Regions from separate parts of the Homo sapiens genome. Here region 1 is linked to region 2. The links come from fine-mapping of genetic effects on gene expression. A gene starts in region 2. The other region holds a variant in brackets. All regions are shown on one strand. Distances are between the middles of the regions.

Region 1 (15,751 bases), 21 kb before region 2:
CAGCTTCTCTGCTTACTTATGACTGACTGAGGCCCCTCTGCTGGGGGCCTTTCTTCTCTCTGACATTCTAAGGAGGACCTATATAGCCCATTACTTGATGTACAAGTGCCACTTTGATCCTGTTGTTGTTTCTTATCTTAATCTTGGTTTATATTTATGGTTCTACCTCTAGCTGAAGATCTACAAGCTCACAATTTTCACTTTCCTCAGCACCATCATCAAAGTTGGCACACAGTAGGTGCACTGTAGGCAGTTAGCAGAAATGCTATGATTTGCCAACTTTGAAATCTTCTCAGAGTAGAACAGGATGGAGATACACATAATCACAGAGAGACAGGGCTGGTGTGGAGTATTTCCTCCAGTCACAATGTGTAGTTCTTGAATGGCCTGTTTCCCTCAAGGGACCATGGAAATTTGATGGACAATGGAATCAGATCCAAGAGAGCCTCCAGGACTTTTGGTGAACCTTATTCCATCAGGAGAAATGTGAGAGAGGCAAAAGAAAGGTTGCAGCGTATTAGGAACAGAATATGTCTGTTAGTGGGACCATTCTATATTAGTAGATCAGCATAGGGAGCTGGGACAGTGCTGCCAAAACTGAGCCAGTCATAAAGTTAGTTGTGATCTCCCCTGTCTAGATGGTCAAAATGATTGGATTTTCTTTGCCGATGTGGAGTGATTGAAGGCAGATCCACTTTGCCAGTTGTTGATTGATGTGTGTGTTTTGTCCATTCCCTCACTGCATGAGGCTTCATGTACACTTGGTTTGGCCTCTTAGGGAACTTTCGACTGCCAATCTCAAGCAAAGGACCAGACAAGATTCTGTATCAGTGAAACTGTCCCTTAGATCAAGTCAAAGAGTGAAACTGCTTCTATCCGTCATGACTTGGGCTTTTGTTTGTCTGCCTGCCTGCCTGCCTTCCCTCCCTCCCGCCCTCCTTTCTTTCTTTCTTCTTTCTTTCTTTCCTTCTTTCTTTCTTTCTTTCTTTCTTTTTTTCTTTCTTTCTTCCTTCCTTCCTTCCTTCCTTCCTTCCTTCCTTCCTTCCTTCCTTCCTTTCTTTCTTTCTTTCTTTCTTTCTTTCTTTCTTTCTTTCTTTCTTTCTTTTTCTTTCTTTCTTCCTTCCTTCCTTCCTTTCTTTTTCTTTCTTTCTTTCTTTCCTTCTTTCTTTCTTCTTTTTTTTGAGACAGAGTCTCGCTCTGTTGCCCAGGCTGGAGTGCAGTGGTGTGATCTCGGCTCACTGCAACCTCTGCCTCCCGGGTTCAAGCAATTCTCCTGCCTCTGCCTCCCAAATAGCTGGGACTACAGGCACGTGCTGCCATGCTCAGCTAATTTTTTGTATTTTAGTAGAGATGAGGTTTCACTGTGTTGCCCAGGCTGGTCGCGAACTCCTGAGCTCAGGCAATTTGCCTGCCTAGGCCTCCCAAAGTGTTTTTATTTCTTTTGTGTTTACTTTTGGGGTTGTTTGTTTCTTTGTTAGTTTTCGTTGAATTCAGACTTAATATTGTCATCCTCTAGGCATTGGCTCTTTGGAAAGGTAAGGTTTGCAGACTTCTTCATCAGCTTTAGGCTCTAGGGAGCACAGAGTTGCTGTGCCAGTGAAGAGCCTCGGTGGGTTCTGTTTATGCTCCAGCTAGAAGCAGCCTAGGGTATATTTGCTGCTTGCTGATTATGGTGGCCCTTTTTAAGTGTGAGCTTGAATATATGTACAGATCTAGTGGAAGGTGTCTATATATTCCCCTTGAGATATTCCTCTCGGCAAAAATGAAGCAAGATGAAAGAGTGGTTTTGTGCCCATTTCTTTAGCCAACTCTGTTGCATGTTTACCGTGTGTCAGGGACCATAGGAAGGACTAATGAAGAATAGATTTATAGGGCAGAGCCTCTGTCCTCGAGATCCTTGAGGCTGGCTGGTCAACATGAGGATGACCAAGCAAGAGGCACCTTCTGTGGGTATGAAGTGATCCAAACTAGAACCTGACTGAGCCTAAGTGGGATGTAGTAGTTATGAACTCTGACTTTGAGGTCAGACAGAAAATGGGTCCCAACCTCAGGTCTGCCCTATTTTAACTATGTGTCCTTGGACTTAGTTTGGCTATGCAAATATTTCTGGGTTTGAATTTTCTTTTCTGCTATAAAATGTAAGATCAGGTAAAGTCTGAAAAGCACTTAGCTCCCAGCCCAGCACATAATTCCTGCTGAACACATGTGAGTTTTGTCATTATCATCACTATTATTGTTGTTATTACTATCATCATCATCATCTGTATTTACTGAATGAGAGAAGCCTTCACAATAAAAGGGATAATCAAAAAAGATTTTGAAAGACAGCTAGGGTGTGCCAAGGTACCTGAAGGCAGGAACTCGTCCCAGAGAAAAGAAAGAGTTTGTGCAAAGACTCAGAGCTATGAGAGTGAGTTGGGCTATTTTCTGGGATTGACAATAGTAAAAATGACTGGATTTCTTGATTTTTCTGGGATAAAAGGTGTTGGTGTATGGGCCTTTTGAGGATCTAAGGTGTAAAATAATAGATGGTGGTCAAACCATAAGAGCTCTTGAGTGGTATGCTGTGAAGTATTATTATTACTCTGGAAATAAGTAGAAGTTATGGACAACATTGGATCAAAGTTTAGCATGGCTGCCAGAGTGAAATCTGGGTTAGAGAGGAGCTTGGAGACACGTATGTCTAGAGAGTTCAGGAAGGATAAAGTACTCAAAGAAAGGGGCTAGCACTAAAAGCAGCCAAGAAAAAGGAATTATAAGAAAGGTGACTAAGATTTTCCTCCAAGGGCCGTAAGATGGACTTTATCCCCCTTGTAACCCTGAAAAAGCCTTTGCCTTCTTTAGTTCATGAAACAAATTCACAAGAAATTATATAATTGCAGGACTGAGTCTCAGCTGACTGCAGATTTAAAATGGTGAATTCTCTCTTCTGATGTCTCAGTTTGTTGGCCATGAGTGGACTGAATCCTATACAGCCAGGAGAATCTGCTTCCAAGATTTACCCCCCCCAGCAAATGGCATATGCAAGTCCAGATCTTTTAGAAGATCTGAAATAATTATTTGGAGAAAAGAAAGAAAAGAAAAGGAAAGGAAAGGAAGGAAAAAAATAAATGTATGATTTCTTCCTTGAGTACTAAGTTTCCTGGTTCTATTTAGAAGAGATTATAATTTAAAAATGTACGCCCCCATCTTTTCAGGAAGATTTCTACTGTATAATGTGACAGACTCATTGCTTTTAGTTTATTCAGAGCTGGTGCTAAGAATATGAAGATGAACCAAATGTTCTTCCTGCCCTTAGGGAGCCTGGTGTCCAGCACAGGACACAGACATGGAAGTGATAGATTGAAGGTTTTGTGGTGACAGGAGTGGGCACAGAGAGGAGATGCATCCTTGTCTGCCTGGGAGAATAAGACAGAGATTTGCAGGAGGATGAAGACAAGCCCTCTATGTCACAGTGGTGGAGATGCATTTGCCATATGGTGACCATACTTTCTGAATCAAAAATTGAGATACATGATCTGACACAAGGTTTGACGATGGGACAGAATTTTTGAAATCAAGGCTGTCCGAGGAAACCCAGGACATATGGTTGCCATAACCAATCATTACTGTGCACACAGGGGGCATGGTTTGATCCACAAACAACCAAAGCCAGGATTCAGGCAGACAATTTATATCAACGCTTGACTGCATATGTGGCAAACTGTATTTTCTGACCCTATCTATTGGCCTGACCATGGCTGGACACTCATTCATTCAGAGCAATCCTAAACGAAGTTGGGCATGCCGGAATGTAACAGACTTTAGAAACTACCTGGTCCAAACTGCACCTTACCATGCCAGTGGAGAAACTGAGGCTCAGAAAGGGGAAGAGACTCTCTCAAAATCATGCAGCTCCTACAGAACAGAGCTGGGTCTGGGTAATTTTCCTTCCCCTCACCAGGGCTGGATTTGAGAGACACATCAGAAAAGCCCATGAATTGAGAGAAAACACAACATGCCAGCCTTGGTGTCACTAAGGCCACAGTCAGTAGATTCACTCCCGACTAAACAACCAAAGTGTCACATTTGATGGCCTTGAGCTCAGATCTCTCCAGAATATTGATGAGGCTGCCAAGCTGAATGTGAGAATGCCAGGCTGTTTAAGACGCAAAGGAGGTTGTTGTAACACGATTTGTCAATGCCAAAGAGTTCCAAGGACTCTGAGTCTTCAACATTATATTCTACTGATCTTTCTCCATTGGTGGTGAAGCGATAATGAAAAGAGAAAGCTCATGGAAATAGACGAGGTATTCACGTATGCGCATTCGGGAGAGAGAGCTGTCTCAGCTGGAAAAGTGGAAAATCAAAAGTCCTCCTGCCTTTCCCCAAGATGGCACTGGAGAGGGAACCCACCTGAAAGCTACACCCATTGATCTTGAATCTCTGGTCGTTCTGACTTGGGAAGAGGCTGAGTTCCAGACGTACATGCTGCCAAGAAACACTTAGTGCCTTCACAGCCAAAAAAAATGTAACACGCCTGCCCAGCATGTGAGAAGGGCAAAAAAAAAAAAAAAAAAAAAAGTGGTTTTTCCTCTGGGGCTGACAAATACCAGCCCAGAACTCTGAGATTAAAATGCACGACAGACATGCTCTCCCTGATGCGGGCCTGGACTGGAGAAATAATTTAGAAGAACTGATGGAATGGCCTGTGCTTGGCTTGCATGCCTCTTCCTCTGGAATTCCAGCATAGTCCCACCTCTGGGATCCAGAGCTGGTTGTGGGCATGTGGTCTAAGCTGGGGACCACCCATGAGTTTTCCTTCCTTTCCTCTCCTCTCCTTTCCCCTCTTCCTTTTCTAGTCTTTATTTTTCTCTGTTTATCTCATTGGTTGTCTTTTGTCTTTCTTCTCTTTTGCCTTCTTTTCTCTTCTCTTCCATTTCTTCCCATCCCTTCTCTTTTCCTTCCTTCCTTCTCTTCTCTCTTTTCATTTCCTTGTCTTTCTCCCCATCTGGGGTGACATACAATAATGCAAATTAAATATAAATTGCTTTGTGCCTAGATGCTGTTGGGATCTGAGATGCTCTCCCAGCTTACTGATCGTTCTTAGCCATCCATTCATATTTTCATCCATCCACCCATCTACCCATTACCATCTCCTGCCATCCTCCCAACCAAGCATTTGTCTATCCTTCTCTTCAATTCACATCGGCAAGCATTTCCCAAATCACATATAAGCACCAGGGACCCAACAATACCCTATGACAGCAGAAATGAATATGACCTCAACCTGGAATTTGAGAAGTCACCCAGTGTAGGAGGCAAACTTATAATTATTACTTAGTAAATGTTTGATAAGGGCAGAGCCTTCAGTCCATCAGTCTATTCTGTGCAGCCTTTTTTTCTTTTTTTTTTTTTTTTTTATTTTTAGAGACAGGGCCTCGTTTTATTGCCTCAGCTGCAGTACAGTGGCACTATCATAGCTCACTGCAGCCTTGAATCCCGGGCTCAGGGGATCCTTCCTCCTTAGCCTGCCAAGTATCTGGGACTACAGGCATGTGCCACCATGCCCAACTAATTTTTTAAAAAATTTGTAGAGAAAGGATCTCACTATGTTGCCGTGAATGGTCTCAAACTCCTGGGCTCAAGTGAACCTCCTGCCTCAGTGTCCCAAATGCACAGAGTACAGGCCTAAACCACTACACCCAGCCTCTGTGTACTCTTTAGGTGAAAAGGAGTTAGTCCTTTGAAGAGGAGAGAAAACACCAACTCTCTAAGTTGAAGGAGCACATAGGAGGTGCACATAGGGTGACGACGAATTGTCCTGAATTGCCTGGGACTGAGGCGATTCCTGGGATGCAGAACTTTCAGCTTTAAAGCCAATATAGTCTCAGACAAATCATGATGGATTGGTCACATTGTGTATGCATTGGTCTGTGTGGCAGGCATAATAACAGCCACCCAAAGACGTCCAAATTCTAATTTCTGGAATCTGCAAGTATGTCACCTTATAGGCCAAGACGGACTTTGCAGATGTGATTAAGTAAAGGATTTTGAAATGGGGAGATTATCCTGTACTACAATTGTCCTTATAAGGGAAAGAAAGAAGAGGGTGAGAGTCAGAAAAGGGAGACGTGCTATGGTTGCAGAGGTTAGAGTGATGCAGTTGCTGGAAGTGCCCCACAGCCAAAGCAAGCAGGTGACTTCCAGGAACTGGAGAAGGCATGGAACAGATTCTCCCCAAGGGCCTTCCAAAGGAACACAGCCCTTCTGACATCTTGATTTGAGCTCCATGAGACCCATTTTGGGCTCTGACCTCCAGAACTTTAAGACAACAAATGTGTGTTGTTTTAAGCCACTAAATTTATGGTAATTTGTTACAGCAGCAATAGCAGACTAATACACTCTGCTTTCCAAAAAATCCCCCAAAGACTTGAATGCAGGTTGCTTTGCTGCCTTTCTATTGCCCCAGGGCAGATTCTGGTTTCTCCCAAAATACCATTCCTTTATTAATGAAGGAGGCAGTGTGGGAAGTGTTGAGAGCACATTGAAAAGCAACCATTTACTGATCATCCAGGTTAAGCTGGAGCACTAGAGTGGGAATTCAGATGCTTCAGCTGCATGTCTGGCTCTGCCTTTCCTTGCTCTGTCAGCTTGGTCTACCTCTCTGGAATCTCTGGTTCTTACTTATCTCTAAAATGAACTAAATAACATAGAATTATCATCTCAAATTTATAAACTTTGGTAACATTCTTAAGTGATCATGCATTCGTAATGTGTTTGTGACTGACTCCAGAGCATATGCATTTTTGGGGGGTGACATCACACCCAAGAGGATTAAAATGGATTCTTGGATGGGGGGCTCTTACTGTTTCTGTGTTTTAGAAACAGATGTACAGATGATACATAACCGAATACACAGTATACCTGTGGTATGGAAGGTTCATGGGGTGGTGACAAGGAAAAGTGTCCAACACGTCTCCTTCCGGGAGTGCTAATGGCAAAGAAAAAGGCTGAGAATCATTTGTCTAGTTATTGCACCACCTGTTGCTATTTGATAACGTGTTTTAAAGGGCATGGGAAAGATGATGAAGCAGAGGAATCTCAGGAACTTTCTGGAGTCAGATGAATATAAATCCAATTCTTCACGTGGTTGTAGATCTGTACCACTCTGAGATCAGTCTCTTTATCTGTGACGGAAGACAGAACTGTTCTCAGGTTGTTGTTGGTATTTCATTAGATAAGACAGAGAGAGATACAGATATATAGGCAAATATAAATTGTCACAGAGCCTGGCCTTCAATGATGTGTCTCCCCTTTTCTTCCTCATCTTTTTGCTCCTTACGAAACGTCATTGTGGAATCATTTCTTCACTGCTCACCCCTTACTGTTGTGCCCCCTACCTGACACTTACTTTTGCTTGTAAATTGAATCAACATATGGAAACATCTAGCTTTATTTCATTCCCTGATTAGTGGAGCGCCAAACATGTGTGTTTGATTACTCTGGAGGCCAGGGAGCAGACAGCACTGGAATAGTCTGACCCCTTTGGCCAGGGAGAAAAATTAGGCCCAAGGGGTGGCCTGGCCAAGCTGCCCCTGTGCTGTAACGTGGTCACAGGGTTTCTCGCACCTTCCATCAGGCCATGGTCCAAATGCAGGGGGAGCTGAGGGTTCAGCATGGAGGTCGTTCCACCGGGTCTGCTTGTGTTACGATCAATTTGTCTTCAGAGACAGCGCCCGTGCTTCCAGAGACAGACTTTGTTCTTACCATCCCATCTTCCCACACTATGGAGTAATAGAAGAAAAGAATAGTGTTCTATGGCCTGTTGTTGTTAGGATAAGGATTCCATGTCATGCCGTAGTGTTCCTTTAATGAACACCCATGGGGGGAAAAATAAATCTCCAGGCTCAATAGAGGGGACAGAAAGGCTTCTTGAGGACATTTTCCCTTTTGAATCTGGCGAGTATCATGCATTGGAATTCATCATGTTTCCTTCTGCGCTTGGGCTGCCAGGAAACTCAGAGCCAAATTTGTGTTATATTTCTAACATCTGTACAAAACCTTTCTGATTTTTTTTTATGTTTTTATGTTTGATTCGTTCTTTGTAACTTTATCTTCTCTGCTGCTCCTGGTTCCTTCCCAGAACCCTAGTGGGCTGACTTGCTCTCTGGGTAACTAACACCAGTGAGTATTCCCAGAAGACGACTACTGCTATTCTCCCCACTTCCCCCTTTCTGAACCCATTAAGGGTTCATAGTCCTGCCTTTTTTCACCAAATGTTAATATCACACTTAAATTGTGATCCAGAAGTCATGACCCACAAAGGACCACTTGGACCTTGCTTCTTATTTGATACCTAACTCCAGGAATTGCCTCTTTAAAGGCACTGGGTAAAAAATGATGGACCGGGCTCAAGGAAAGAAAACCCAGTCAAAGCTTAGGTGAACAAATATGTTTGACCACTTAATATAGGTATTGTGGAAGCCAAGATGCATGGACTCTCATTCCACAGCCCACAGTCTCACTGGGGTGACACACAGGGAACAGTTAGTGTAGTACAGTCCCCTAAGTGCTATGGTGGAACAGGTGCATTGGAGTACTGGAAACAGGAGGGAGATCAATGTTGCAGACCCCAGGGAATCAGGCAATGCTTCCTGGAGGAAGTGGCACTTGAGCTTAATTGTAAAAGGCAGGCAGTTGAAAACTCATGTCCACATAGAAAGTTGCACACAAATATTCATGGAAGGTTTTATTGATAATTGCTAAAATTTAGAAGCAATCAAGATGTTCTTCAATAGGTAAAGGAATGAACAAACTGTGGTACATCTGTACCATGGAATATTATTCAGCAATAATATTGATATGGAGGAGACTTACATGCATATTATTAAGTAAAAGGTGGTTAAAAATCTATATGCTTTCTGATTCTAATCATAAGACATTCTGGAAAAGGCTAAAATATCAAGAAAGTAAAAAAAAACATTAGTGGTTCTTAGGGGTTTGGTGGCAAGGAGGAAGGGATAGAAAAAGAGCTCATGAAAGAGAGAGGGAAGACCGGTGTGCAGAGTACAAAGGTGGTCAGTGAGAAAGGACATTCCAGTCGGTGGCAATAATAGAAGCCAAGGCATAATAATTGAAAATGCAGAACCTGATTCAATCAGGACAGGTCAGGCTGTGTTGCAGAAACTAAAATACAAGAGAGGAATAAGGGGGATGAGGCCAGTAAGCAAGTGGACCAGATCACAGAAACCTGAATTTTGTCCTTATGACAATGGGGAATGTTTAAAATAACTTAAGCACAAGCATGCGATGGTCACATTTATTGGTCACTGCCACCAAGAAGCTGTGGACTTAAACCCTCATCTTTGCCTCCTTCCCTTACTCCTCTTCCAAGCCCAGTCAGTGGGGAGTAACATGATCAAGTGCACTTTTTAATGTCTAGTCTGTGAATATAGTTCATCAACAGTGTCCAGGAATGATGGGGCAGCCTTGAGCCAGACGGTATGACAGTCAATAAAGACAGACCAAAAGTATAGCTCAGTGAATACAGAAGCATTTACTGGACATTTACAAAGTGCTAGAAAACTGCACATTCTCTCGTTGTCTCTCTCTCTCTCCCTTCTTTCTCTCTCCTACCCTCTCACTCTTCTTTCTGCCCCCCCGTAACAATGTTTTAAGTTTGGTTTATTATTACATGCATTGACAAAACTGAGGCTGATTGCCATGAAGCAATTTTGCCTAATGTCAGAAGAAAGTGAGCCCAGGTCATTGGGCCCCAAATCCAATGCTTTCTATTTGAACTGCTTTCAAACTTGCTATCCACCTCTATTCATCACATCTGAACTCTTCCAGCCTCTGCCAAAGAGGTCATTTCTTGGCACACTGAATCCCATTGTGGAGAGGGATAGAATAGGTGTGCCCTGGCCATCAGGTCACTACAATTATTATATATAGACTTCTGACTTGTGCATCCATGATCTCACAGCAGCACCGATTATTGTTACCCATATGTGTTATTAACAGCTTCCTAAGGCTGCTATAACAAAGTACCAAAGCACGGTGGCTTAAAACAATAGAAACCTGCTCTGTCATAGTATGAAGGCAGAACTCTGAAATCAAAGCGGCAGCAGGGTTACTTCCTTTGGGGGCTGTGAAGGAGAATCCCACCCATGCCTCCCTCCTAGCTTTGGGTGTCTGCCGGCAGTCCTTGGTATTCCTTGGCTTGCGGCTGCCACACTCCCATTTCTGCCTCCATCCTCACATGGCCTTCTTGTTTGTCGTCTCTTCTATGTCTGCGTATGTCCAATCTTCCTTTCCTCTCTCTTACAAGGACACCAGTTGTTGGGCTTTGGGTCCCATCCTAAATCCAGATGACCGCAATTACTTCTGCAAAGACCCTATTTCCAAATAAAGTCACATTCACAAGCGTGGAGATCAGGACTTGGCCTGGTTTCTTTGGGGGACATAATTTCACCTGCTACTGCATAGATGAGCAAGAGGAGTTTTTGCGAGGCTCAGTGACTCATCCCAGCACACAGCTAGGAAGTAAGGGAACATTAAGACAGAAGACCAGCTCCTTCTATCACAAATCCAGGCCCCTCCTGTCTCTAGATCTCAAAGTCATTATCTCTGAATGCAACCTTTGGTTTAGAGACGTACATACAGCATTCAGAGCCAAGAAGAATCAAGGATGCGGTCCTTGGAAAAAGAAACACCTTGGAACTTGAAAAAAGAAACACCTTTCCTTTTCTATGGGAGTGTGCTTATGATATCTTGCTGCATAACAACTACCCCAAGACTTTTTGGACTAAAACAACAAGCATGTTTTATCCCCGAGGTTTTGTGGGTCAGCAATTCCAGGTTGCTTAGCTGGGACTTCTGCATCCAGGTTATCCCCAGGCTACCATCAAGGTATCAGCTAAACCTGCAGCTATCCCAAGGCTTGGCCAGGAAAGGGTCTGCTTCCAGGCCCACTCATGGGGCTGTTGGAGGGCTTGGTTCTTCCTGAGCTGTTAGACTGAAGGTTTCAGTTCCTTGCTTGTTATTGGGTAGAGACTGTTCTCAGTGTCTGGTCACCTGAGGCCTCCACAGGGCAGCTTGCTCACTCAGTCAGAGAAGGGATGGAAAAACAAAAGCATGTCACCATCTACCATCACCTAATCTGGGACCTGACATCTCAATCATTAAGCCACCAAGCCTGTCCCACACTCAAAAGGAAGAGATTACACAAGGGTGTGAATGCCAAGAAGCAAGGATCACTGGGCATCACCTTAGAGACTGGCCACCAGACACAGCCACAAAAGTAGACCCTCCTTGTCTATGGGTGGAGTGATAGAAAGATGTGAGGAACAGAGCTATGGCAATCATTTTGCTGCAGTGAAAGGAGAGCTGGGGATTTTGAGGAAGGCATGACATGGAGCCTGAGGACAGGGCCAACACCAAGGGATACAGAAAGA[A/G]CAGACTTAGAAGAACCAGGTCCTTGATGACATGATTAAGCCTCTTGATCAGCCTCCTCTGTAGCCAGAAACCTCGGAAATGTTCAGATATAACGTGAGATAATAAATGCCACGGACAGAAAGTCCTAACAGATGCATGACCCCACATATAAATATGGGCAAGGTAGTGAAAATAACCTCCTGAGGTTGTTTGCCTCTGGATACAAGCCTTTTTTGTCATTCATTATCATTTGCTCACAGATGATTCACATCGGTACTGTGAGCTGGCCTGGGGTGACCATCCACAAGCTCAGGGCTGGGTTTCTAGCTGCATCCATATTCCCCTTATATTGAAGAACACCTTATATTTTATCAAGAGCCCCGAAGTCAAGCAGCTGATGAGGTTAAGGTCTGTCTACACCTGAGCACACAGCCAAAACCCCCAAGTCCCAGGGACTATTCATTTCACTGTGTTCGCAGGTGGGTTTTTAACAAAATTAGTAATGAGATCTTGCCTCCAAATCCCTTTTCCCTGGTGAATTCACTGGGGGAAAATCAGCTTGTCTGGGGGGAGCCTGCGTGGCCTGTTTTTTTCAACTGATGTTGAAATCCTACCATCTCCCAGCTCTGCCCTTCCACCCGCACCCACCCACATGGAGACAACTAACCATTAACTTGTCTTTTCCCATTTCACTGAAGAATTTGCGAGCACAGACTCAGCACTCACCCTCTCTCTCTGACTTCCTCAGACTCCAAACAGCACTTATAGAAAGTCAAAGTGTAATTGTGGAGATGTATTTGTGCTCTGGCCTTTTCAACATTTTGAGAATCACACACTGTGGGCTCCCCCCAGCCCTGCCCTTCTCCCTACCCCATAAACAATGTCTGACCTATAGCCTTTGAGGTAGGTTTCTGATGGGAATTGCAGATGATGGAGCCACCTTCTGCTTTAGGGACCTCCCCCATTCCCGGGTGGACACCGCCCCCCCCGCAACCTGCTCTGCTTCATGCATAGAGGGAAGAAATAACTATTCCCTGGAGATGCCGCATCTGATTCATAAGGAAAAAAAAAGGGATTTGAGGGGAAGATAATAGGAAGGATTTTGTTTTGTTTCATTTTTTTCTCATTTCACATTTTATTTGTAGAAGTTTAATGACTAGATATCAATGTTCTCTTTTATTTATCTACTTTCAAATTTTAATGAATACTTCTGGCTATAATTACCTAATTTTTATACTTAAAATGACTAGACACCTGTAGTTCAGAGCACATTGTATTCCAGCATGATGGCTTATGGTATCAAGTGCTGCATATATATGGATTAATCAATAAGCAAATTCAATTCTTATGAGGTGCAGTTCATTCTTTAAATTGAAGAGGCATTGACAACAGGAGGGAGAGGGTTTAGTGCTACTCTCTTAGGATGAGAATCTACCATGAATGTGTTCACTTCTCTGTTGTTCCTTTATTATCCAGGGAAGTGGCTTAATATTTTCTAAGAGTGGCCATTGTAAGCAGGACTCATCTATCCTTTTTTAGATGGATTTCTTTATTTTCAAGACAGTGTATGAGTAACCTGAAGAGGGGGTGGGTCTCAGTGCCCCCTCAAACCATTCAATTCTATAAAATGCCCAAGAGGTAAACATTGGAGGACTCCACTTCTAATAGGTATGGAAAATACAATTCTACCCTCTCTAGATGTGGGTCCTGATAAGGCTAGAAACCTCAGCTTTTAAAGTCATTGGTACTCTTTGGTATAATGACAACCACTATTGGACTAGGTACCAATTTTAGGGCCTGTGTCTGAGGCACTATGCCAGGTGCATCACATACAAATTCTAGTCTCACAGCAGAGTGTGAACTGATATCTTCATTCTACAGATAAGGAGGCTCAAGGTGTGACAGACCATATCACATGTGAAAGTCATGTAGTTAAACCAGGAATATCTCATATCTAAGCATTTTTTTCTGCCCACTCTATTACATTAATTTATTGTTTCTCTCCTTTAATTTCTTTCCTTCTGGAGTACTCACACTAACCCTTCTCATGTTCTGTTAGAAGCAAGGCTCATTAGAATAAGAAAGGCAATTGCTTGAACCTCACCATCTTTTGCTGGAGCTTACAGAGAGGCAGTCATGGACCTCTTGAGACCAGGAGGCCCAGGTACAGGTGATAAGAGCCCAGCTGAGACCAGAAAGGGCAGAAGGTGAGTGACTAATGGACTCCCACCACCCGCCTACTGGAACCCTGGGGGCCTGGAGGTGAGGAATTGTGAGCTAGACTAAAAGAGCATTTTCAATTATCCCAGGAGAGAAGTGTTTAGACAGGACAATTAGGTCATTTAAAGTGACCATATTTTCTGTTAGAACCAAGGGAATTCCTAGTTCAGCCTGCCCTGGCTTTCTTAACCTCACTGGGTAAAGACATTGATGAGGGAAGAGAGGAATCTCCCCACAGCCTGGTGGCTCACAAGGTGTCATCCGAGACCTCTGTGGAGGGTTTACAATCAGGGGAGGCTTGTGGGACAAGGTGCACAGAGTAGGTGAGGATTCATTGAATGCAAACTGATGAGAGTTTTCATAATGTTAAATAGGGAAAGAAGAGGAGGGTCACAGGGGTAGGAAGGAATTGTAAGCCACAGGATGTGTAAAGGCTGTTTTGATTAGGGAAGTTTGGACCACTCTGGGTGACCCACCTCTGTGAGAAGGAGAGATGTTTGGGTGGGGCTGGTGGAGAAAACGGCACCTTGTTAAGGCCAGAAAGATGGCCAGGAATTAGCAGGGAAGAGACACGGGGAGGGCTTTCTCGGAAAAGGAGCCATAAGTATTGGTATAGTAACAGTTTTACATTTAAATTTAAAGAATGTCTTGATGGATTTTCAAGGTGAGCTTTTTAGGCCTTTCCACCTTCCAATGTCCCCTACTCCCCATTTTCCCTACAGATGAAATGATCAAATTCAAGCTGCTATGGCATTTGACTTTCAAAGCCCAATACATTTCATTCCTTGTTAACCTGTTTATTCATCTCTTATAAATACTCTTTCCACCCCCACCCCAGTTTCACCTGGAGGTCTCACACAGGAGTGCCTTCTCTCTGCTATGCTCTCTGACTGCTGTGACCCCTGTGCACCCAGGTGGGGCCACAGTCACTCCAGGAAGTCTTCTGTGCTGGCCCCACATCTTTCTCTTCTTCCTCTTTCAGCCTTCTCTGGATGCTAACAAAGCTGTTGATAGCTGTTAATGGTTTCGCTGTGTCCCCACCCAAATCTCATCATGAACTATAGTTCCCATAATCTCCACATATTGTGTCATGGGAGGGACCTGGTTGGAGGTAATTGAATCATGGGGGCAGTTACCCCCATGCTGTTCTCATGATAGTGATTCTTACAAGATCTGATGTTTTTTTTTAGGGGCTTTTCCCCCACTTCACTCATACTTCTCCTTGCTGCCACTATGTGAAGAAGGATGTGTTTCCTTCTCCTACTGCCATGATTGTAAGTTTCCTGAGGCTTCCCCAGCCCTGCAGAACTGTGAGTCACTTAAACCTCTTCCTTTATAAATTACCTAGTCTCAGGTATGTCCTTATAGCAGCGTGAGAATGGACTAATACAGCTGTGTTCTGAGTCCGATTTTATCTGTTTTATGGGATTGCGATAGCCCCAGCTCTGCTGTGTACTCTTGGAGCACAATGCTCTTGCTGTAGAATTCCTCAAATTCCCCAACAGACCCTAGACACCATGGATCTTTCCATAACACTCTGCAATTAAGGGCTGGTTCCCAATGACTGACTCTTGAAAAATACTAGACCTTCTTCCATTAGCAAAATGAAACAAACAATACCATTTAAACTTGACCATAATGTGTTTGAAATCTCATTTTCTCTTAACCAAATGTCCTCTACTTTTTTAGTTGAACAACTTAAACTAGAAATTTACTATACAAGTTATAAGTCTGAGGTATTAGACCTTCCTTTTTTGATTACTGGTGGCAGTCTGATTTGTTTATATAGTGCTTCCGAGTTGACAGGAAACTTCTGGAGCCATTATCACTTTTTCCTACACAAAGGACTGAAAGAGTATTTTCTCTCCATTTGACAGATGAAGAAGCTAAGGCATGAGGGAATGAGCAAAAGTAAGCCCAATATGCTGCAGGAGAGGAAGGGGATCCAAGGATACCTGACAGAAAATTTTCTGCTCATTTTAAGGCACTGGCCATTGTCTTCTTCTTTTTTTTTTTTTTTTTTTTGAGACAGAGTCTGACTCTTTCACCAAGGCTGGAGTGCAGTGGTGCAATCCTGGCTCACTGCAACCTCCGCCTCCTGGGTTCAAGCGAT
Region 2 (15,751 bases):
GTAAGAGTTTAAAACCTGCCTTAGTTCACGAGGCTACTAAGTGGTAGATGAGAACTTGAACCCCAAACTACTGATTCTGAATCTTAAATGGATGTGCACAGCTACCAAGATGAAGAGGACCCCATCTGCACCCTCAGGAAGGTTCTAGTCTCAGAGAAATGGCCTCAGAAAATAAACTGAGGGATGTGCACTCCACTCCTTTATTCACTGGGGTCTGCCCGTGGGTTCCAGTCTAAGGGTTTGCACTTCTGAATGAGAACAATGTCCTGTTTGGGGGAGGAAAAGCAAATAGACAGGCCTGAGAAGTGGTTCAGTCATCGTCAATGTCATGACTGCTTCTTTGATGGTCCATAGTTCCTAGCTTGTTTATTCATCTCTTTCCATCACTGTACTAAAAATGAGTCTGCCAACCCCAACCAGAGAGGGTTCAGGAGATCTGTGCACAGTATTCTGTCCTGGCCACGACCCACCAGGGAGCAGGCAGGAATTAAGTGATGCAAAATGCTGGTATGAAATATTGCCATAATTGCTTTCTGGAAAACAACAAGCTTAATTCCCAGTAAAACGGCATTAGAATTTTCCAGGCTCTCAGACGGGGAAAATAAAATGCCCTTCCTAGAAATTTCTCATGCTCTGTGTTTTCTACGAGATGATGAAGACTCTGTAGAGGATAATGTGGAAGGTTTTGGAATCTATGCTCATTGCCCTGTTTCATCAAATGTATGTGGGACTCTTCTCAAACAGACAAAAAAACTCCAAAGCCCAGGCTGATACATATTTTAAAAATTTCTATGAGAATAAAAAATGGCCCTAGAGTCTCTCAGCCTGAGTTCCATCCTGTCACTTAATAGCTAGGCATTGTTGAGTGCCTTACTTAAGGTAGAAAGCTCTGATTTTGTTGTCTGTAAAAATGAGACTAATACTAGAATTTTCCTCATAGATCTGTCAGTACCTTTTAATAAGTTATTCCAGATTAAACACTTAGCCTTGTGCCTGATACAATACATGTTGGCAATGATCTTAACACTTTTCTGTTTCTCTTCTTCTCTTAGCTGATATGTTGAGACTGAGCTGTTTTACTTCAATGACCCTTTCTTCTGTGCCATCACTTCCTTTCTGAATTCATTGAATTATTCTAAGTAGAGAATATCCTCACAAGGTGGTTTTGTGGATCCACAAAACCCTACGGTGGTTCCAGAGTAATGTCTAGTGCTGGATAAATGTCTATGGCCCTGAACTTTGCGGGGAGAGGATTGGTGAGTTGAGTCAATACGTGTTGAACTGTACAGCAAGAAAACTCAATTCCTTTCTTGTGATAATTGAAATCATTTCAATTCATTTCCTTCTTGGTTGGACAGAAACATGTTTTCAGTAGTGAGCAAATCTTGAGGGAATCCATTGACCTGAACACTCATATAATGCATGAAGTTAGTGGACAAAAAATGATATTCATCTTCAGTTAATAATAGCATTTTCTTCTGCAGCACCTAAACTTAGGGGTGGTGAGGGATACTATTGGTGCAGTCACTGTGCCACCGGCAGATGCATGACCTTTGTTGTATCTAACTATAATTGGATCTATGGTGAAATAAAATAAAAACCAACACAAGTTTTGACACTAAGATAATAAATTATAAATTATGGAAGTCTACGCCACCAAGGATCTTGTAAACAACAGGCTGGTCTCTTAGCAACAGACCAAGGAGAGCAGGTTGTTGATAGGAATGGAGCAGACAGGATTGTTTTGTAGTGATTACTACCAAACACCAGGAACTACATTTCAACACCTGCCCGAGGCCCCATCCCTGCCCAGCCTTTCTTTGTCCAATGGCCAGTGACCCTTTCCCACTGACCCAGATGACCAGACCCCATGGAGGGGACAATAAAGATATGGACTGAAGGATAGAGGTGGGCTGAGGATGCCCTGTGGGAACAGGAGGGAACTACAGAGGGGGCGGGAGAAATAAATACATTCTTATTTGATACTGTTTAAAATTAGGACTCTAAACGGGGAACTCCTCTTTTCCCTGCCCCCAACTCCCTTTGGTTTTAAAAATCTCACTGAGAGTGGTTGTCATGAAGGAATTTAGACAAGACTTTGACAAGGTGCCAAAATGGTTTATTTTAAAATGTTGTTCCCGAAAGCACCGGAATATTAAGTTGGAGCAAACGTTGCTTGGAAGAGCGAAGGGGTTGTGGTCACACATTCTTGGAAGAAGGGTGATGGAGATCAAGGTGTTTGTAACCTGGAATTAACAAACGCAGGTGGACCGAAGGACTCAGTCACCAGGGAGTTTTTTTTTACAAATACATGTGTAAGAGTGTGTGTGAGTGTAGGTGAGTGTGGGTGTGTGTGTGAGTGTGGGTGAGTGTGTGAGTGTATGTGTGAGTATGTGTGAGTGTATGTGTGAGTGTGTGTGTGAGTGTGGGCGCGTGTGTGTGAGTGTGGGTGAGTGTGTGTGTGAGTGTGGGTGAGTGTGTGGGTGAGTGTGGGTGAGTGTGTGTCAGTGTTTCTCAACTGCGGGGCATTTTCGGAGTTGGGGTGCAGAAGGAGATTTTCTTTAATTAATTAGATGTTTACCTCCAGCATCATCCCTCAGTGGTTTAGACAATCATCTGCCCACATGTTAGGAATGAGATTCAAGAAAGCCTCTTGGAGTGAAATTTTCCTGGAAATATCCTGATTCTTGGCGGCACACACCCTCTCCCTCTTTCTGTGATAGAAACAGCCAGTTCTGCATTATTCCAAACCACAAAGCAAGCGACATGCCATCCCAACTTAGGATATGAAGGAAGTATCAGCCCCCTAATTGCACAGGGGCCACACAGCCTGCATCTCCCTCCATCGTCCCGACTGCATGCTTTTGATTGTTTCATAATAAAAGTGGCCGGCTAAATTATGACTACTTGTGATTTATTTGCCATGTCATTTAGACTTTTCATATGTATAAATTTGCCATTTGAAAAGAAAGAGAAAATTCACTGCTATTCCCCAAGGCCTCGTTTTTGGGGAGCTCCTCTAACATCATGAACAGAGGCTTTGTGACTTCTAAAGTGATTAGCTCCTATCCGGAGGTTTTGGAACATATCTGTGCTCAGAAGCAGTCTGCCGGGGTGAAATTCTATCTGGAATAGTGTCCTAACCCCATCGGAGAGAGACTCTGAATTTTTAAAACGCCTGTTAAGGACCCCTGGGTATGAGCCCCGCACAAACATGTCTGCGGCACCCACAGCTGTGCCTCAATGAAGGCCCAATTTCTCCATTGCACAGATGAAATTGCAAAGGCCCAGCAATGTTAGCCAAATTCCCCAAGCTTAATGCCAGAGCCTGCTTCCACTCCAGGACAAAGTGGTTTCAAAGTCCATACTTGCCCCACCCTGGTGGCCTGCCCTGGGGAAGGTCACTGCCAAGAAGGCTCCTGGGCCGTCTTGCAGCTGCTGCCTCTTCTTTTAATTACGAAAGAAATGCATCATCATGAAAAATCAACAATACACAAGATATAAAGTTAAAAGGCAAAGTCCCCCCTCATCCTCTCTCTCAGCCCCTCAAGTATATTAGAAGATCTTTTTAGGGTTGAATTTTCACTCTGCAGGAGGGTGTTCTGTATACAAAGAATACGACCCTTTCTTCCTCTTTAATTTGCTTATAGCTGGTACATTTCAAAAAAAAATAAAAAGTGACCCATGCCTTTGATGTTTTTTTTTTCCCCTTATTTTTGTCAACATATTGTGGAGAATGCTGAGTTCTTTGAATTGTTTTTCCCTCTGACAGCAAATCACCAAGATGTACTTTTCCAGAGCCTAACATCCTTGAATTCACAAAAGTTCCAGTCTGGAGTCATAATGTGGAACGTAAGCAGTTCTAGTCAGTTCTGATCTTGGCAACATGAATTCTCCCCTTTCCCCGGGGAGACTCAGAAACCTGCATTTTCACAAGATTTCCCAAGTGACATGTGTGCACAACAGGGTTTGAGAAACCCTGTGCTGGACTCAGCTGCTTCAGAGAGAAGACACAGAACAATTGCCAAGCTATCAAAAAAAGCTCAGACTGACAGCAGAGAACTCAATAGAAATGCCCCATCCGACTGTTGAAACTCAGGCCCAAACTACTGCAAGAGAGTGGAGAACTGTTTCTCCTCTGAAAAGGCCCGATTTCGACTAAATGAAAGCAAAACTGTAGGGACCATTTCCCACCTAGTAGCTTGAAGCCCTACCCGGTCACCAAATTGGCCTAGCTGGTCCTACCTGCATTTGGTAAGAGCCGGGGATTGGGACGAGGCAGAGAGCAAGACCAAGCTGGTTTCCTCTCCGGTTTCCTCCGGGGTGGCTGGGTCCCAGGTCCTGCCCCCGCCTCGCCCTGTGCAAGCTCGGTGCAGTGCAGCCCCTCCGGCTCTCGCCCCACAATGCCGTGCGCAGGCTGGCAGCAGTTCAGCTGAGGACTAAACGCTTGGCTCAAGTTCAACACGGCTGCCAAGATTTGGCAACCAGAGAGTTGCAGGGAAGCAGCAGGCTGCTAAACCCTTTCACATTTTTAATTAGATCCACACACCCATGTCTTTGAGCTATCATAAATATACAGATGACATAGAGAGTATTATTCGGGGTTAAAAAAAAAAAAAAGGAAGCAAACTCTACTAAGGTACAGCTTACCTTATTGAAATAATTTCCCTATCACTAGTTTGAGGGCTGAGGAGGAAAAAGAGAAGGTAGTGATATTTGCTTAAGTAGAACCACATCTGACAAGGGAATCTACCCAGGATCTGGAAAACACAGGTCTCGGCTGCCTTGCTATCTTCCTGGGCTTCGAGAATATCACCAGAAGAGGGCATTCTTGGCGCCGGCTCAGCCCTGTGCAGCCCGGAGCTGGCAGGCAGCAGTGCTGGAGGAGTCATCCCTCAGGCCACTCCCACCTCCCGTTCTTGGGGATAGCTTTAATATCGCCACGGAGCAGAGAGGTTCTCTCCTTCGCCCTAAATGCAGCAACTTTTATACTCCATGTTGCCTTACTATTCTTCTCGTTTTATTTCCTTCTCTGGATTGTTTTTGGGTATCTTCCCCTGGAAAACAATTGCAGATGCTTCTAAATTTTTCTAAGTCCTGTGCCGCAACATGCTCAGCTTCTTCCCCTCAGAACCAGCCTTTCCCCTTGCACTCAGCCCCTGGGCGATTCTCCCTCCGGGGAGGAAAGAAGATTCAACTCTTGATTCAAATGCTCCGGATTTCACTCTGGTTTCGCTGTGTGGCTTTGGACATAGGATTTAAAGCCTTCACGTTGGTTCCCTCATCTGAAAGATCCCAAAGCAATTCTGGCCTCACAGAGTGGCTCTGGGGTTTAAATCCTATGTACAAGGCTCGTAACACAGTCAGCACCCAACACTGAATATTCGATAGAACATGTGCCTTGTAGACAGTCAGCTAACAAACAACTCCACCAAAACAACAGTGCTAGTCCTTAGTCTTCTTCTTCCCTGAACTGCTTCTCCTCTTGTTTGTGACAAAGGCCACCCATGTTTCTCAGACAACTAACCCTAGTCTGATCAACTTGCCGTAAGATGAGAGTGAGCCCATGCATTGGTGTGCATGCCCTTAATTTAAAAGACATGTTAAAAAGGAAATGAAACACTTGAAATGCAGGAAAGAAGTGCCTCTGGTTGTCCCATCTGAGAGCACAAAGTTTATAAATAGAACCATCACAAGCATCAAACACGAGCTGTGCTAAGGCATCAAACACACATACATACACACACACGCACACACATGTTTGTGTCCTTGGCTTATGGTGAACAATTTGTACACCTTTCAGTGGCCCCCGCAGAAAACCAGAGCTTGTAGTGGACACTTGGCAGCATTTGGTCTTTTCCTCATCCTTCCTTCATTTATTTTTTCTTCACATATGACTTGAAAATAGAGCATGTTTTACTGTGGCAAAATTCCCTCTATACTTGACCTGCAAACAGGACAGTCAGGCTAACTGGGATGACCTGGTCCAATGAAGTGGGCTGGAGACAATTCTACGCCCAATAGGCACCTTTCAGCAGATGGAAAGGGTGAGGACAAACAGGTTGGTGGGCCTCAGCACCTCATCTTTTCCTGTAGTCTCTCTTGCTCCCCAACACCTCACTATCTCCCCCAATCCCCAGGTACAGGGGATTTCCTTTCACTAGAAGAAGAAAGGATACAAGCTTCTTATGCACGTGTGCACACACGCACACCCATTCATGCTCACAGACACTGAAACAAGACCCTTACACCAGGACTGTTCCACTTGGAATACAGAGAGCAGTAATGGCTCCCACAGCCATGAAGACCCAGGCTGAGTCCCACTTGCCTCTATGGTCCTGATCAGGCTCTGACAGGGAGCACACTGCTGCTCATGATTAGTTATTTATACATGAGGAAGCAGCAAATTTCTATGAGAGTAAAGTAAGATATGATCCACATCATGCTTTCCTGGAGCAAAAAGGGTCAAGCTGAAGCCGGTCTCATTCTCTGAGCTATCGTGGGCTGCACCTACACGTCCTTCCCACAGACGCATTGAAGGAAACGGGCCCTGTGACACCCTGACCCTTTCTGCACTTTATGTAGGGTGAAGGAGGTAGGCTGGGAATTAATACATGCACTTCATGTATTTAAGGGCCATTCCCTAATAGTACTCTGAGACTTCCTGGGAAATATTATTAACTCAGGACTGACATGTATTAGTCTGCTTGAGCTGCTATAACAAAATACCACAGACTGGGTGACTTAAATCCCAGAAATGTATTTTCTCAGTGTTCTGGAGGCTGACAAGTCCAAGATCATTTCTGGCTGGCCTGGTTTCTGCTGAGGGCTCACCTCTTGTCTTGTAGACAGCCACATGGCCCTCCCTTGGTGTGTGTGCCTGGGGAAATAGCATTCTGGTGTCTCTTATAAAGACACTCATTCTATCATATCAGGACTCTACTTTTATGACCTCAGTAAGTCTTACTTCCTTCGAGCCCCCATTTCCAAATATGGCCATACTGGGGTTTAGAGCCTCAGGATATATATTTGGAGGGATAGAAATTTTCAATCCATAATAAAAGCATTTTCGTACTTTTGTGCATTTTGTACTTTTGGAAGGAGATGGAGTCAGATGGAAATTCTGCTCACTCCGCCACCCACTAGCTGTGTGGCCTTGTATAAATCTATTAACCACTCTGAGTCTTATTTTCCACTTTTGAAAAACAGGGGTTAAAAATGCTTTCCCTAGAGTGTGATTGTGAGTAATAGGTTAGAGTAATATATACACAGTTCCCGGCCAAGGGAGGCACTCAAAAAATGCAACAGCCATAGTGGTAGTTGATACCATTATTTATTATTTGATGTTATTATTTGTTAAAACCACCCAGAGAGTGTTGCCTGAAACACTGGCTTAGAGCTTTGCATCCCAAATGTTCTCTATACTGCCGTTTGCATCTGTTTATCACCAATGCTGACATGAGTCAATGAAGCTCATAAGGAGTGTGACCGTCTGTAATAATATCTTCCATGGGGTCCAGAGGAAACAAACATGCGCACTTCCAGAGAACTGTGTATAAATATTCATATCACTTTACGTTTAGGGCATTTTGCACTAGTTGTTGATACCATTATGCATTTAGCATGGTCATGACAATCAGGTTTGAAACTCTTGGTTAAAGCGAAAGTCTTGCAAGAAAACATAAATGTGGCTGCATTACACTTGGGGAGACTAAACTTGAGGGAGCCAAAGATTGGAATTATGCAGTTTCAAAGGCCATACCCTGAGCTTCACAATCCTGCCTGAGTCAGCAATTGCAACAATAATGCTGTATAACAAATCATCCCAGCTCAGATGCTTGAAAGACTAAGTATTTCTTCTCACGCTCATTGGTTTCTAGGTTTACTGTGGTTCTGTTGAGCTAGACTTGTCTCAGCTGATCAGCTCTGCTGCAGACTGCATGTCTCCTGAGCATGGTTTTAAGCTATAGATTGGGTTCTCATCCACTCAATGTGTATTTGTTCTGGGATCCCAGCTTAAGGGGTGACAGCTACCTCAGACATGTTATAGCCTAAATGCAGAGAAGAGCAAGCACATCTAAGGTCTCTGATTGCATCATGTCCACAGGCACTCCAGTGGTTAGGTGAAGCCACATGGCCAAGCCCAACCTCAGGAAGTAGGGAAGGAAATTCTGCACGGTAGTATTGGGGAAGAGGGGAATGAGTTTTAGCTGACAAATAATCCAAACTATTGAGTACCCTGCAAACAACAGCATACAGAAAACTAGAATAGCAGCAACCACCATACCTTCTTTATCAGCAGAATGCTAATTCCCTTTAAGGCATCTCTAATGGTTGACAGCCAGCAGCCATTCTGACTGGTCAAGTGTCAGTTTTGCTTGGTAGTGCCCTAAACTTAATAGCTTTAAAATAGCTTGACTATCACCCTGGATTGTCAGTATCTACAACGATACCAGCAAACACCAACTTCCTAGGGCCTGCGATATCAGCACCAATGAATTCCACTCAGAACCCCCAAAATTCTAAAGACAGGGTCCTAGCACTGCTGAAATTGTGATGTGGATACAGGTTTCAGAGTGAAGGAGCTAGGAGTTTAATAATATCTCTGATGCTTCCCAAAAATGTGGCCCTGGGCAACGACATGATCTCCTGAATCTCAGGTCTTTAGTGGGGTTGCTTGTGGTGCTGCCGTGAACAGTAAACTACTGGATGCGTGGAAATCAGCCAACACAGGGCCTATAATTTACAGTGTGCACCCACTAAATGATTACTCTCTTCTTGCTTTACTATTAGCTTGAATCTTATGGAACTGTCAGAAATAATCAAGAGTTGGCAATTCCATACAGTTCAACCTAACAGGTAATAAAACCCTTATGGGCAAATGTAATATTTTGTATAACTCTATTCCTTGCAATCCTGGTTCATTCCTCATCTGTGGAAATGAAAGCCAAGGATGGGAAATGCCCAATGAAGATATGGCCAAATGTTGAATGTTGTAGCAGAACGGACACCCCCTGTGTTAGTATCACTCCAGTGATGAAGATGGAATGGTGGGGTTGTAAAGAGGTATAGACAGATAGAGTATAGATAAGTGAATCTACTGTTTATCTGCTTTCCTACCACCAAGGTAGGACGTGTCAAGTAAGAGCAATGGTATAAGGAAGGGTGGGTGTTCTGCAGAAGTTCAAGGGGCTGGGAGGCCACAGGAGAAAATCTGTGCCCATTTTATGGTGTGCAGAGAAGATCGTGTAATTTGAAATTAAGCAGATATGGGGGTTTTAATGTCAGCTCTTCCAAAAACATGCATAAAATCTTGGGCAAGTCACTAATTTCTCTGAACTTTTCACCTATGAAAATGACATAGTTCTCACAGGAACGTTGCAGGCCTCATAGCGATGGTCTAGCTATCAATATCTAACAGAGAGCTTGTTTTCTGGCAGGGGGTGGGAGGGCTCAGCCATCTTGGTGACACATCACTATCCCATTTTTTTTTCTCCAGGCTGGTCTTGAAGTTGGGGCAAAATGAATGCCGAGCAACAAAATTCTAGGGTGTCTAGGTCTTCTTAGTGCAGACTTTAAAACTGTACCAAAGGGATTTGCCAAGAAACTCGCTGTCATTTCCAGAGCAAGCTATTTTCATTTCCCCCACTGGTGCTATAGCAGCCGGAAACTTTGCTGCAGTCCTGCCCTCTGGACACCATCTAAAAGCACAAGCAAGCTGTAGACATGGGCAGTGACTGGGTATCCAAGGAAGACAGTCATATATACAATAATGACTGAAATTAATTTGTCTTATCCCTTCTAGGCCAAGGGATAAAACAAGAGAAAAGCAGGGGGAAAGAAAAAAAAAATAACAAGGGAAAGGCCCTAAATGAACTTCAGGATCAAAAATAGATCCTCTCTAACATTAGTAGAAGACGGTAATGTTATCTATTGTGTGCACCTTTAGCCAGAATAAAGCATTTAACAAACAACATTTATTGAGTTCCTACTCTGCGCCAGGCACTATACCAGCCACAGGAACCAACATTGAAACAAGCAAGATGCCTGCATCCCAAAAGCCTCATTCTTTTTGCCCAAACAGAGGGGAAGGAAGATCGATTCTATGGGGGTCTTGTTTCCATCTGAGGAATGAGGGTCAAGGATGGGAAATACCCACTGGAAATACATCGAAAGCATCTTGCCATCAAGACGTCTGTTAAATGAACAGCAATTAGTAATACCACGTTCTTTTTGTTCCTTCTACATGCTCAGCATTATCCTAGAAAATGCAGGGAGAAGGAATAAAATATAAAGTCTTGCTGCTCCTCTCCAGAATTTAAACTCTAGCTCAAGAGATTGGATTACCACCTGTGCAGAAATTGCAAAGAAGACAAGAAAATACTGACTTTATTTATTTTCATTTTAAACAGAGTTCATCTCCTTGGACTTCCTTTTGGGAAACTGTTTAAGGAACTCACATACAATACATTTAAACAGCTAATGGCCAGGAATAGAAGTTCAATACATAAACAGGAGAGCATGTAGCATCAGCTAACCACCAGGTTTTTTGTACTTACTCTATCTGCACCCCAATTTGCTCTTGAGCTCCCTGGCAGCCAAAGCAAAGGGAAAATATGGTCAATTGCAAATGTTTGCTTTTATTTTTGTTTTGTTCTTAAGAAAGAGGACACAAAACAAATCCTCTGGAAGATCTAGTTAGCATCATGGATAAAGTCCAAAACACTTGCTTTTAGAATAAATGCATACCTAATTTCATAGGATTGTTTTCCATAATGACTCTCAATAAAACTCAAAGATGTAACAAAACATTACTTCCAAGTAGGTGGTTTGTCAAGGGGCTACAAAAAATGGTTGAAGTCTATATCTTTCCAGGGATCTAACTCGATAAAAGAACTTAACTCAGCACAGCAACTTATATGAGTGGATAAATAACAGGTGCCTCCCGCAGTCTTATCATTTCTCTAAAGATGGGTTTTGTTGGAAAGTAGAAGATCTGAGATTATGCTTTCTTGTGGGCACCTAGATAAATGGTAATCTGTGTTTCTAACTGATGGAAAACCTACACAGTTTGTAAAGCAGACAAGTGGATGATATGTATAAAAGTATATTATAGAAAAATTGACTGGGCAATCAATCCATTAATGAATCCAATGGCTATCCATAGACCACCATCTTAGTCATTCAAATATCTGAGGCATAGCCAGTGGTATTCAGTAGGTGCTCAGTAAATGCTTTTGAATTGAATTCCTAGGAAATGAGAAGCTTAGGTGGCAAAACCCTGAAGGGCTTCACCCGTACTTGAAGATGTCTGGTGACTATCAACATTTCCAGCATCACCTCTGCCGTTTTTGGCCTTTGTGAGCCAGAGCAGGTGGTGACCGCACGATTTGCCAAGGTTAGCTGACCCCAAAAGATTGTGCAAAAACTCCTACTACATCCTGTCAAAGAAACAAAAATGATCATGTCCTTGGGACAATTACTGTCTTTGGAGCATCAGGTTTGATTCTATAATTCATGTATACTTAGCTCAAGCTCTGTCTGACACAAGCTATTTTGCCAGGCTCACTGCCTATCTCATACCCCTGGGTCTTGCTTTTAACTTTTTTTGTGAGTCTGCCCTTGACGACCAGTTCTACTATTATCCCACCTCAAGGGGATGATTCGCCATCTAAGGAACAGTGTATGTCTGTCTTGTTGCCCATCATCCTCCCCCTTTCCTGTTCAGAGATCCGCATGGCCTTCCTGGACTATTGAAACACAATCCTTCCTCCATCTTCCAGGCAGCTACTCCAGCCCTGCTGTCAACATTCAAAACCAACCATGGAACATCACTAATGGGCATCCAGTCAACTCCAGGACCAACACCCTTTGTGATCTTCTCCACTGACCACTCCTTTCTTCTCCCTCTGTCTTTCAGCAACTGGTGTTTGCTGTATATTGTTATTTTGGAGTTAGAATTCATATATAACAATTCACCTCTCTGAAGAGGCCATTTATTTCTGGCCATTTATCTAAAACAGCAGACCACACTCTGCCCCATCACATACTTTAGTTTTCTCCTCAACAGTTATTTGTACTTGAAATTATGCCATTTGTTTATTGGCTGTCTTCTTTACTAGGATATGAGCTCACAGAGATCAGGAACTTCACAGTGCCCCCAGAGCCTGGGACCAGGCCTGGCTCACTGTGATCTCCAATGAATGAGTGAAGGAATGAAGGAATGAATGAACACCTCCTCACATAGACTATGCTGTATTTTATCTCTTTACCTTTGTGTTTTGTTATTGTTGGTTCCTTGCTTTGCATTTGTTCAAATCATTACCCTCTGCCAAAAAAATAAAAAAAGTTTATTCGTCTATGTGTCCCTTATTTTAAACTTTGGGTTAGATATCAGATGCTGCCTTATTCAGAAGCTCTCCTAGCCACTTCTGCAGTTGTCTCTTCTCTGAGGGCCCACAGTCCCCTCTGTTTGTTTATTTGTTGGTGCATTTGCTCCTTGGAACTGTAATTGTCCATCTGTGTCACTATTCCCCTTAGGAGACATTTTCTCCTTGAGGTCCCTGACTAGAGCTCACTCATCTCCATGGTCCTTGTGTAGAGAACAGTGCTCACTGTTCTAGCTTATCAAATTTTTCATAGCTTATGTAGTTAATACTCTATGTTGCTCATGTTAATGTATTAGACACCATCTACTCAAACCATCATCATTACCACCGTTTCATATGTGCTGAAACTGAGGCTTGGAGGAGGGAATGGCTTGCCCAAAGTCACAGTGCTCTATGCTGGTGGCTGTACTCTGGATCCCAGACCATTGGCCTCCAGTCAAATAGTCACCTTCAAGACATATGACCATCTGGTGGATCCCTAATTTTTTTGGCAATTAAATCTGACCTTTCTATCAGTGCGGTAAGCTTCCTGAGGACAGAGAGTGTCTTCCACCTTCCTTGTATGCATTTAGGGAATGGAGCTGTGCTTTAAACATAATAAGCAGTTAATAAATATGTGTGGGCTGAACTATTCATTTGATAACAAACTGCTAGAGAGTTTTCTGCTTGGATGCATAAACATAAACATACACAAGGGGATATATTTAGCCATTTTCTTGCTGTTTTAATTTTATACGTGTTGCATATGTATTTCTACCAGCTATATTGGCTTCCTCTTAGAAGTAGAAAAGATAAGAATCAATTAGTCTCTCAATTAATCAATCATGTTTTTATCATTTACTGTCCTTTACAGTAGAAAATCTTGCTGAGTTGTTTGTTTTGTTTTTATTTTTATAGTTTAGCAAAATGGATGTTACTTTACCTCTGTTTAACAATTAAGAAAGAGAGACCCCTGAAATGTTTCCCCAAAGGCATGGCCAACTGGGGAAGACTGAGGAAGTGCATGAGTAATGGGTCCCCGACATGGATGCCAACAAATAGTGTTGGATTCTATATTTTGAAGCTGAAACAAGATTCAGAATAATTTTGGCCAGATGTCAACAACTTTTTCCTCTTTTCTTTTTTGTAATGGGGCAGATAGTGAGTATTTCAGGCTTTGTGGGCCTTAAACAGTCTTCATCATAGCTACTAAATCTTACTGCTGTAGAGCATCAATAGTCATAGACAATATGCAAATGAATGACCATGCCTGTGTTCCAATAAAACTTAATTTATGGACAATGAAATTTGAATTTCACATAGTTTCTGCCATGTGTCATGAAATATTATTCTTCCTTTGCTTTTTTTTTTTTAAGTTTATTCTTAGCTCCAGGGCCATACAAAAAGAGGAGATGGCTGAATTTGCCACACAGGCTGTAGTTTGCAGAGCCCTGATCTAAGAGCACCTCCCTTTCACCTTGAAAAGGAAAATGGAAGAGGAAATTCGGATGGCGAAATCATGGCCAGGCTCCATCAATAGCCCACTCCTTCTGGTCCTCCATGTTTCTGTCCAGCGCATGGGATCTCCTTCAGTTCTCTATCTCCTTATTGTAAATAGCTGGGCATTTAGTAAATAGAAAACAAATTTCTGGATTAACTGATAACAAAAATACCTTTGCAAGCCAGTGCCAGCAACTGCCAGATTGTTCTTTGAGGCAAGCAAGGCCCCCAGAGGATTCTAGGTACACACCTTCCACATCTCATCAACAGCCCAAATGGAAAAACCTCCTTCCTACGTGGAGGTGAGACCCCCACACTGGAAGGGTGGCGGAACTCAAGCCAGAGCCCCAAGGATCTGATTGGCAGACGTCTCTGATCCACAAAGTTCTTTTAACTGACGCAGCAAATGACCTTGAGCTCGAGTAGAAAAACAACGGGCTTCTAGTACATCCCAATTTGCTCCTCTGAGTAAAGTCACATGAAAAGACATATCTAGCAGGTGGGGACTCAGGAGATGTACCCTCCAAAGAAGCAGGATATAAGGGGTGACAAAAGACTCCTTAGCCAAAGTCAATGCATTTTAATACAATATTTAAAAAATCAAAATTAATAATGAACATCTAGACAAAGGAAACATCAAAATTTTAAATAAAGTCAAGATTGAGTACTGTACATGCTTGTCTCCCTGGCTTCATAATAATATTCCCTGTAGTTCCTGCCTTTATTGAAAAATTTTGGTTTTTTTAGCATAGATTTTTTTACAATCATTTTGAATTTTGGAAATACGGAATTGTTCAGAAAACACTGTACAGAATGTAAAGGAGGCAAAAGGAGACTTATATAGTTTTATCTTTAAAGAAGACACCAAAAACACACTTACTTGCCCGAACACAAAGAATCCAACTGTGACCCATGAGCATTCATATCTGTTTTGCTGCCATCTCAAGTTGCTGAGCATATTTTTTTTTTTTTTTTTTTTTTTTTTGAGACGGAGTCTCGTTCTGTCGCCCAGGCGGGAGTGCTGTGGCGCGATCTCCGCTCACTGCAAGCTCCGGCTCCGAGGTTCACGCCATTCTCCTGCCTCAGCCTCCCGAGTAGCTGGGACTACAGGCGCCCGCCACTGCGCCCGGCTAATTTTTTGTATTTTTAGTAGAGACGGGGTTTCACCGTGGTCTCGATCTCCTGACCTCGTGATCCGCCCGCCTCGGCCTCCCAAAGTGCTGGGATTACAGGCGTGAGCCACCGCGCCCGGCCGCTGAGCATCTTTCAGGGAAAAAAGAATCACTGAATGTGTCCACTTGAATGTAATCCCAGGCTAGTTGTCTCTCTAAATTATAAAATGTTTGACTGTCACTATCTATCTCATGAAGACTCAGCACTTACATCTGTCCAGTGCCTCGGAATAATTCACGCTGAGGAAAAGCCAACACTACACTAAGTGGAGTGGTCACATACCCTATGGTAAGTCTCAATACTCTGTCCGGTAAGGTGTGAGTCAGTCTAATCACAGGCACTGAGATTAGAATGCAGTAATTGACGATTTTTCATCGACAGCAATGTTTACTACCTATTCTGCAAAAACAGAGCTTCTTAAAATATTACAGAACAAATTTTTCCTTAGAATCTCCAAAATTTACACTCAAAAATAACACTGATGCTTTCCTCCCCTTTCACTAATAGAAATATCAGTTATTTCTCAGAGTCCCCCACACAAGCGGCTAGAGTAGAGAAATTCCTAAAGAATTTCATTCTGATCTTGACTCCTAAGAGTCATCAAGCATGAATCCTTGAGGCTACCTATGTCCTTCTCTCTCTGGGTACCCTCTTCACACGTCCTTGGCTAAATATCTCTGCCATTCCTGATGCCTTAGCCTGAACCAAAT

The links.
Region 1: its variant is fine-mapped to the expression of LINC01550 in blood mononuclear cells (TOPMed, PIP 0.97).

The regions. Positions count from the first base shown.
Region 1 is chr14:97,952,652-97,968,402 of GRCh38, forward strand. All of the region lies in intron 2 of LINC01550 (long intergenic non-protein coding RNA 1550), which reads right to left. Among named protein-coding and RNA genes, the nearest start is that of LINC01550, 18 kb to the right of the region's middle. The variant A/G (reference allele first, on the strand shown) is at 11,439.
Region 2 is chr14:97,973,732-97,989,482 of GRCh38, forward strand. LINC01550 (long intergenic non-protein coding RNA 1550) reads right to left here and starts at 4,393. Exons shown (of 3, transcript NR_015430.2): 1 at 4,246-4,393. RefSeq lists an enhancer at 4,393-4,892.